Regions from separate parts of the Homo sapiens genome. Here region 2 is linked to region 1. The links come from fine-mapping of genetic effects on gene expression. A gene starts in region 1. The other region holds a variant in brackets. All regions are shown on one strand. Distances are from middle to middle. Region 1 holds the start of SLC10A7 (solute carrier family 10 member 7). Region 2 overlaps SLC10A7 (solute carrier family 10 member 7).

Evidence for each region. PIP is the estimated chance that this variant, and not a neighbour inherited with it, causes the effect.
Region 2: its variant is the best candidate, but not a certain one, in a credible set for the expression of SLC10A7 in iPS cells (iPSCORE, PIP 0.52).

The regions. Positions count from the first base shown.
Region 1 is chr4:146,520,100-146,524,577 of GRCh38, reverse strand. It overlaps SLC10A7 (solute carrier family 10 member 7), which reads left to right and starts at 2,638. Exons shown (of 12, transcript NM_001029998.6): 1 at 2,638-2,960. The coding sequence starts at 2,861. RefSeq lists enhancers at 1,791-1,870, 2,041-2,460, 2,471-2,550, 2,771-2,840, 3,281-3,510.
Region 2 is chr4:146,451,322-146,455,321 of GRCh38, reverse strand. All of the region lies in intron 4 of SLC10A7 (solute carrier family 10 member 7), which reads left to right. Among named protein-coding and RNA genes, the nearest start is that of MIR7849, 45 kb to the right of the region's middle. The variant TAC/C (reference allele first, on the strand shown) is at 2,285.

The DNA of each region.
Region 1 (4,478 bases):
ATAGTAACATGCTGTATAGGTTTGCAGCCTAGGAACAATAGGCTATACCATATAGTCTAGGTGTGTTGTACACTACATTATTTAGGTTTGTGTAAGTACACTCTATGATGTTTCTCTAATGATGAAATCGTCTAACCATACATTTCTCAGAATGTAACCCGGTGGTTAAGCAATGCCTGACTGTATTAATTATTGTTCATCTCTTATTGTGCCTAATAATATAAACCAAAAATTATCATCATAGGAATGTATGTATAAGAAAAAATACCATAGCATATATAGATAGGGTTCAGTACAACCAGCAGTTTCAGGCATCTACCTAAGGTTCTTGGAATGTATCCTTTCAGGATAAGGGGGGACTACTGTGATTGAGTTAAGGCTCTTGAGAGATCATTTTGGATTATCTGGGTAGGCCCTAAATCCAATGACAAGTGTCTTTATAAAAGATACACAGAAAAGGAGGTGCAACGTGAAGATGGATGCAGAAACTAGAATAATGTGGCCACTAGAAAGAAATACAGAGGGGAATGTGATGTGAAAACAGTGGCAGAGATTGGAACACTCTAGCTACAAGCCAAGGAAGGCACCACCAGAAACTAGAAAAGGCAAGGAAGGACTCTCCCCTAGAGCCTTCAGCGGGAGTATGGCTCTGCCAAAATCTTGATTTTGGACTTCTGTCCTCCAGAACTGTGAGATAATAAATTTCTGTTGTTTGAAGGCATCCAAGTTCGAGTATTTGTTTCAGCATCCACAGCAAACAAATACAGGCCTTAAGAGAATATAATTCATGGTACATTATATTCTTTTCCTTTAAGTACCATTAAAAACAGAACAAAAAAATCTCTGAGTTAGATTCTGCTCTACACAGATCAAAGAGGTATTAGTAAATAATTTGTGAATAGCTGTACAGTTAAAACAGCTCAATTTCTGTAAACTTAATGTTTAATGATGTTTTAATACAAAACTATCCCTTCAATGACTGAGACGTATGACTCTTTAACCTACTAAGAAATTACTATAAGAAAATAATTATGTTGTAAACTATCTTTCATTTATCTTCACTTATCTTCTGACTGCCTGACAACTAACATCAAATTTTATATTTCATGTACCTGTCTCTTTTCAGAGTAAACTGCTTAATGTCATCTATGTCTCCCTGTTAAGTTCTTTTTATCTTGAAATTAATTTTTTTTCATGTTGCCTGATGTATAATTAGATGACACTTGGTACTGTGTAACCTACAACTGGGAGCACAACTCTTAAAGTGGCTTAGTTTCTGGAAGTCTTGCCATCAAGATAAAGCTAAATTAAATAGAGGAAATGACACGACGAGTGTCTTTCCAGCTTTGAATAAATTCAGAATTAAAGTCTGTCATCACGAAACAATCTCTTCCAAACCTTAAGTTCTATTTTTAACCATTTAAGTGGCAGATGCCAGGTTATTTCAAAATATCACATACTATTTTCTTTCTTTCTTCATTTGGATGAATGATACAGTGGAGTTCATGCTCTTGCAGGGTCTACCGGTAGGAAGTCCATTCATGAAACCATCAATGTCACTGGTTGCCACAAGACATTTCAAGGAAGAAACTGGCAGATAGAACTAGCACTCGTGGCAATGGAAGGTAGGACTCCCCAACCTCTCAGACTCAATCCCCCACCACTTCCGCGTTGGAATCCGCGACCCTCTTCCCAGAGTTTTCCTGTGGCTTGGGTAGGTCAGCCCTGGGGGCGAGCCAGAGCGGGCACCCGCGCGCCCAGGGGCTTGCCAGCGCAGACCCCACTCCGCCCGCGAGTAGCTTAGTTGGTGGGGAGACTTCAGCTGTCACTCTCGGCCCGCAAAGGCAGATCTGCCCCGATCCCTGCAGCCCTCCCCAGTCCCGGAGACAGGTGTGGGCCGCAGAGGGAAGGGGATCCGGACCAAATGCCCACCCGCAGGCGAGCGACCTGGCGAGGTCGGGCCCACCTTCCTTGGGTTGTAGCGGACGCCGGCAAGCAGGGGTCCAGCGAACGTGGGCATCTGCCCGGCGCCGGATTTTCAACCCACCGCCAGAGATAAGGCTCCCCGCCCACCAGCGAGCCACTTTCCCGCGCGGACACCTCTAACTCCGGCAGCTCAGGCTGGGAACTCGGAGATCCAGAGTGGCCTCCCCTCCCCCCCGCGCATACGTCAGCGCTAGCGTCGTGGAAGCGCCGTAATGTCCCGAAGAAGCGCGTCTCCAAACTTGCACCCCGCTGCCGCAGCTTCAACGGAGAAATCCCTTGCCCCAAGCACACGTCAGCCCTGCCCGCGGAGTCATGGCACAGCAAAAGAGAGGCTCTCCATGGAGATATGCTCCAGAAGGGTGGGTGGCTGTGCCTAAAGGTTTGTTAGAAAAGGACAGTCAGTGAGGCTTGCTGGCTGTGGCGCCTTACGACGCTCTCCCCGACCCCTCGTCATTCAGAAGGTTCCGCAGGTCTCGACAGCGGTGCGCTTGTCAGCCCCATCCGGCGGCCAGCCTCCCTTGCCGGATCGCCCACGTTGTCGGCCTGGTCCGAGTTCTTCATTTCAAAGCATCTGCACCTGCGAGCCCGCGGCCAGAGGCGCTGGGGGCGTTTGTGCGCGTGTATTCTGAGGCGCGTGGTAGTGATGGCGGCGCTCAGTGAGACTTTCCTGTCACTGGCTACTACTACTCCCAACCCTCCTCAAAGCCGCCGGAGCAACCCCCAGGTCTTTACTTTACAATCGGCAATTTGACTTGCTCTGCTGCATGTCTGGAGGGACCAAGGAAAGTGTGGAGACGCTCCAAGGATTAGGTGATCGGAGCTTGAAAAGAAAAAAAGCCAAACAAATAAACAAAACCCACCCACCCTAACAAATATGAGGCTGCTGGAGAGAATGAGGAAAGACTGGTTCATGGTCGGAATAGTGCTGGCGATCGCTGGAGCTAAACTGGAGCCGTCCATAGGGGTGAATGGGGGTAAGTGCTGCACCTCTGCCGGCTCCACCGCGGCTCCCACTTCAGAACTAATTTGTGAGTCTTGGAAAGGTGGGGCAACCCTCATTGCAAGCGCTTGCCAATTTCAGGGGGCACTGACCAGCCTTTGGCCCTTTTGCTGATTTTCTAATTTACCAACCCCAGAGGGAACTTGTAATTAGGAACGAGGCAAAGGAATTTGAGGGCAGGTAGCCTTTTCCGTAGACAAACAATGACTATCCTGAGTGTCAAGAAGTGAGGTTACAGAGAATGAAACTTACTCCTCTTGCCTTCAAAGTAGCATCCTATCCCAAGGGAATCTAGGTTGCTAAGAGTTCCGTATCTATCTTGGAGTGGACCTCATTATCGAGTCTACTTTCGAGTCCTCCCCGCCCCCACATTAAAAAAAAAAGTGGAGGAAAAACAAGAAAAGGGACACCTCCGCCCCCAACTCAGATTTTATGGCCCACATGTTGGAGAGTGATGATTTGCTGTAGTTGCTGGTGCTCCAGAAACTCCCAAGCCGACTGACACGTTGCACTCTTTGATTACAGGACACTTCATTACAGCATACTTCCGTGTGCTGCCGGGATTCAGTTGCTATACTAGCAGTCTAACAGATACAGACTGTTAGACTATGTGTAGTGTAGTGTAGTGTGTGTTTTGGCAAGGAAATGTGGATGGACTGAAAGCATACTTAGATCTCTGAATAGTGGGAGCTTTGTACAGGAGATGATGGGCACTGGTGGGAACATTAGAAATATTAGTTTTTTATGCCCCCCCCAACACCTTTAGACAATCTTGTACTACTTTTCATAAACATTAATTGAATTTATTCAATTCGCTTGTCTTTTTGACCTTGTTTGTCAGTTTCCAAGCTTATTGACAGGTTTAATACCTAACTCATGCAACCGGAGCAAATAAGGATAGAGGTGAACAGGCACAATATTTCATAGTAGGAAGCGCTCAGGAGGATATTTGAAGTTATTTTTATCTTTTTGTTAAAACATGATGGAAGTGAATGAAATGATCTCTTAGGAGAACAGCAGTGGTCCCTTCTCCCCTTAACCTCCACCCCATTACTCTGTTTAGAAGTAGCTTCCGGGAACATTTTAAAAGGAATTATTTAAACCAAAATTGTGGAGATGAAGGATTGTTTGTTTTAAAATTTTGTTCTTCTGTATTCAACTTAGAACAAAATGTGTAGAATATGTAACTGTGAGAATAAAGCAGTTATTCCTGGTGGTTTCTCCCTCTGATTGATGGTAATAGTTTCTTCTTTAACACTGCTGCTCTGTGAACTTTTGGGAAACTCTTGTGAAGATCAGGTCTGTCAAATGAAGACCCCCTATCCCCGGAGCTAAATGAATAGTAAGACTTAGAGTACCTTTGCATGATCTGCAATGCACACTTCACTAGCTATCGCTTCTCGTGTTAGATCTCTTATTTGCTCAGTTTTGAGATGAAATTACAGAGGATGTATGATCTTTAACTTTAAATCTGCAGGGGCTAAGTTTGGCA
Region 2 (4,000 bases), 69 kb after region 1:
TAATTGATCAGAAAAGTGCTTGTTGTATTTCACTAGGAGATATTGGAAAAGCCCATTTTAAAGTTAATTTCTGTGCTGCCATAACTCTTTGATACCATTGATCTTCTTGTATTGTAGTTATTATGATGTCTGTCTTCTAGCCCTAGACTGTGAGTTGGTACTCTATGGTATTTATTTTTGTGTTTGCTTAATAAATTTAGGTTGAAGGAATGAATAATTAGAGAAGCATTTGTTTTATTCTTTTCTGGAAGAGATAGGAAACCCAAAGGATTAAGAAGAATTAAACTTGAGGAATACTGAGAAATTGATTTTTTAAAAGATATAATATCAAATAGTATATAACATTTTAAGTAAGTTTCATTCAGCTTAATCTTAGAGATTTACAATAAAAATCTTAGATATTTATCAATAAGCTATTAATGGATAAATAGTATAAATAAATAGTATTTTCAATTTAAGTGTTGGTATTCTGGGTTATACCCATGGTTTGTTCCTGTGAATATTCAGTGTTAGCATAGCAAAGAAGACTAAGTAGTTTAGTCTTTTAACTACTTTTAAGTAGTTTCCTTTTGGTATTATCTTCAATTCATTCAATTTTTAGTCAGACATTGAGCATCTAATATGTGCACAGCATTGTTCAAAGTTTGCCTAAAGATTAAAGAGAGAGCCTCTAAAATTCTTAACATAATTCTAGGAGAAGCACAAAGGAAAAAATATTCATAATTCCATTTACCCCAACATAACCATTAGTGTTTCAGCATATGCCCTTTTTCCATGATATATCTGCAAATGTCTGTTAAAAATAATATATAAAACAGACAGTGTGGATGTAATAGAGAGGGTGCAAGAGATGTCTGGAGATGAATTCTATTCTGGCTTTACTGCTGTCCAGTATGACCTTGGAAAAGATCCTTTGCCTGTCTGGAGTTCTGTTTCTTGATTAACAAAGGGATTGTCATAGTATTTAATGGCCTCTCCCACTTAAAAATTCTGATTTTATAGAAATTGAACACCTTTGAAGACTGAGATTTCAGGAGGATGCAATCAAAATGTTTGATTAAGTTTAATTTCACCTCAATTATAAGGCAGATTTTAAAATCTTGAATTAAATATTTCTTGCTAATATTAGGTATTGTTATTGTGAACCTGTAACCCTTAAAGTAACAAATTTCTTCCCAGAACTAGAACAACAATCTGAATTGATGAGCTTATTTGAACTGATAATTATGTTTTTAGGAAAATGTTGAAACAATTCTTTTAAGCTCTTAAAAAGTATTCTACTAGAAATAAGAAATACAGAATCATCACTATTTTAAGTACATGACATTTCATCAAAAAAGCATACCAAAGAGAAATCAAAGCAGCTATGTTACTTCATTGTTTTTGCACCTCAGGAAAATTGATTTTGCCCTTCCTCTCTTGCCCCATGCATATTGTGAAAATGTAGATTGGTATGCACGAACTATTGCATATTGTGTACCAGGGCTTTAAAAGTGTTAAAAGGTGTCTGTTTTGTCTTAGAAGGGTCAGTTTGCACATTAAATGATTTTTGTTGAACAGTTAAGATGTCCTTTTACTTTTACTGTTTTGTACTAGAATTTTTTGTATGCGTTTTAACGGTTATTTAAGAGTCCCCATGTGCTTAGAAAGGAATCTGAATATATGTGCCTTTTTAAAAAAAGCCTCAGCACAATGTAGGTTATTCCATCAATACCATCAAATGACTGAGAGCTGTAGTTGGAACAATATGTAAAAATACAGCTTGTGAAAGATTTCCTTTATTAACTGTCATCATCCACAGAATATATGTTCAAATAAACGTTGTGCAATAACTAAATTTGAGATTAATAGGCCCCTTAAGAAACAGAGAAGTCATTCAGAATAGTCAGTGAAAAATAGGCTGTAAGACTGTAACATGCACATATTGTCCTGCTTATGTGCTCTCTCTGGTGTCATTCCCATTTATCACTGTCGGCCGGCTCTGTTCTCATTAAAACACTCTTGCACAAAAGCAACTTAATTTTCTTAAGAGGAGAGGACACCTGATTCAATTTAGCACCCAGAAAACAGTAACTTGAATATATTTTTTTCCTTACCTGAATTGAGATGAATAGTTACAAACAAGGATAGCAACCCCCTATTCACCTCAAGATTTAGAATATTAAATAATTTTTTCCACTGGTGTCAAGAAATGAACCTGTAGAAATAGGCAAGAAATGTAGCTTGCTCCTCATGTCAAACATTCACTCTTAACTTGAAGATTGTATATTTATATATATATATA[TAC/C]ACACACACACATTGTATATATCTATAAATCTATATCTGTATATAGTATACATACTTCTGTTAATTCCTGTAATATTTTAAAACAAAGAATTAAAATTAATCTTTCTTTAAATTGGTGAATGCTTTGCAGCAGTATTAAGTCTTCATTTAGCTTTCTTTGTTGAGAGAAAATATTCAGTAATGGTTTAAGTAATATTCAGTAATTTAAGTAATGGTACTTAAAAAATACAATGATATATATAAAAATGGTATCACATTAAAAGTGCCCTCTTAATATTGAGCGTAGTGTATAAATCCGCATTTTGATTGATATCCTGAATATGTTTACTTTTCTGTGGTATGTTGTAGTAATACTTAAATATGACATAGAAATGTAGAATTCAAATTTTTCTTGTAATGAGGGCTCTTCAGTGAAAATAGTGGTAATTAAGTAGTCAATAGTAAAACTAGCAACTAAGTTGCATAAGAGAAAGTCAATCATAATTGGCTTTGAAAGAAGCAATAAATATTTCTTATTTTTTTGACTTTTTATAGCACTTTAGAAAGTGCCTTACAGATAGAATGAAAATGTTTTGTGTTTTCATATTTAATTGAAGATCAAGTATTGGAATTCAGTCTTTGATGTTTTAGTCTTCATGTGTTTTTAAAACTGAATCTATGCTTAGGGAGAAAATAAATATTAAGGCTGTTTCTCCTTCCTGCGAATCAAAGCCTGATGGGATATAAATTCACATAGTTGAAGAACTTTTCTAGGGTAAGGCAATTTAGCTTTGACCTCCAACAATTGTGGCCAATAGTCAGTTTTCTCTTCCTTATTTTCAATGATGTCATATGCAATAGGAACAAGAGATTATACTAAATAAGATTTAATGTGCCTACTCAAGCTCATATTTTAGAGGAAATAGTTTTTTATTTATCTGATCTGCCGGAGTAGTCCTTTATTATTTTTTCCTTGTTTAGGAACATGGTGGTGTCAGGCTTCAAGTACCAGAAAATTAGACTAAAAGTGGCTTTAGCAAGGAGGGACTTATTTTTCTCATATACCAAGATGCCTGGAGGTAGAGGCTGCTGGCGTTTATTCTGCGGCTCAGTGACATTAGAGTGGCTATCTCTCCAGTGCTCTTATGGATGCAAGATAGCTTTTGCTGCTCTCGGCAGGAAGAAGTGTCAGTACCAGAAACTAACCTCCCTCCCTAAGCCCCCACCATCAAGCATATATCACTTTTTATCTCATTGGCCAGAACTTTGCTGCATGGAAATCCCTAGCTTTTCTTTTGTCTTATCTTAAGGTGTGTAACTTCTATCTAAGGTGTGTAACTTCTATACCTAATTTGTTGAGAATTTTTATCATGAAGAGATGTCGAATTTTATGAAATGCATTTTCTGCATCTATTGAGGTAATCATGTGGTTTTTGTCCCTCATTCTATTGATGTGGTGTGCCACATGTATTGATTTGCATGTGTTGAACCATCCTTGCATCCCTAGGATAAATCCCAGTTGATCATGGTGTACTATTGTTTTGATGTGCTGTTGGATTCCATTTGCTAGGATGTTGTTGAGGATTTTTGCATCTGTGTTCATCAGGGATATTAGCCTGTAGTTTTCTTTTTGTGTTGTGTCCTTGTCTGGTTTGGTATCAGGGTAATGCTGACCTCATAGAATGAATTAGGAAGGATTCCTTCCTCTTCAGTTTTTTTTTGGGTAGTTTGAGAA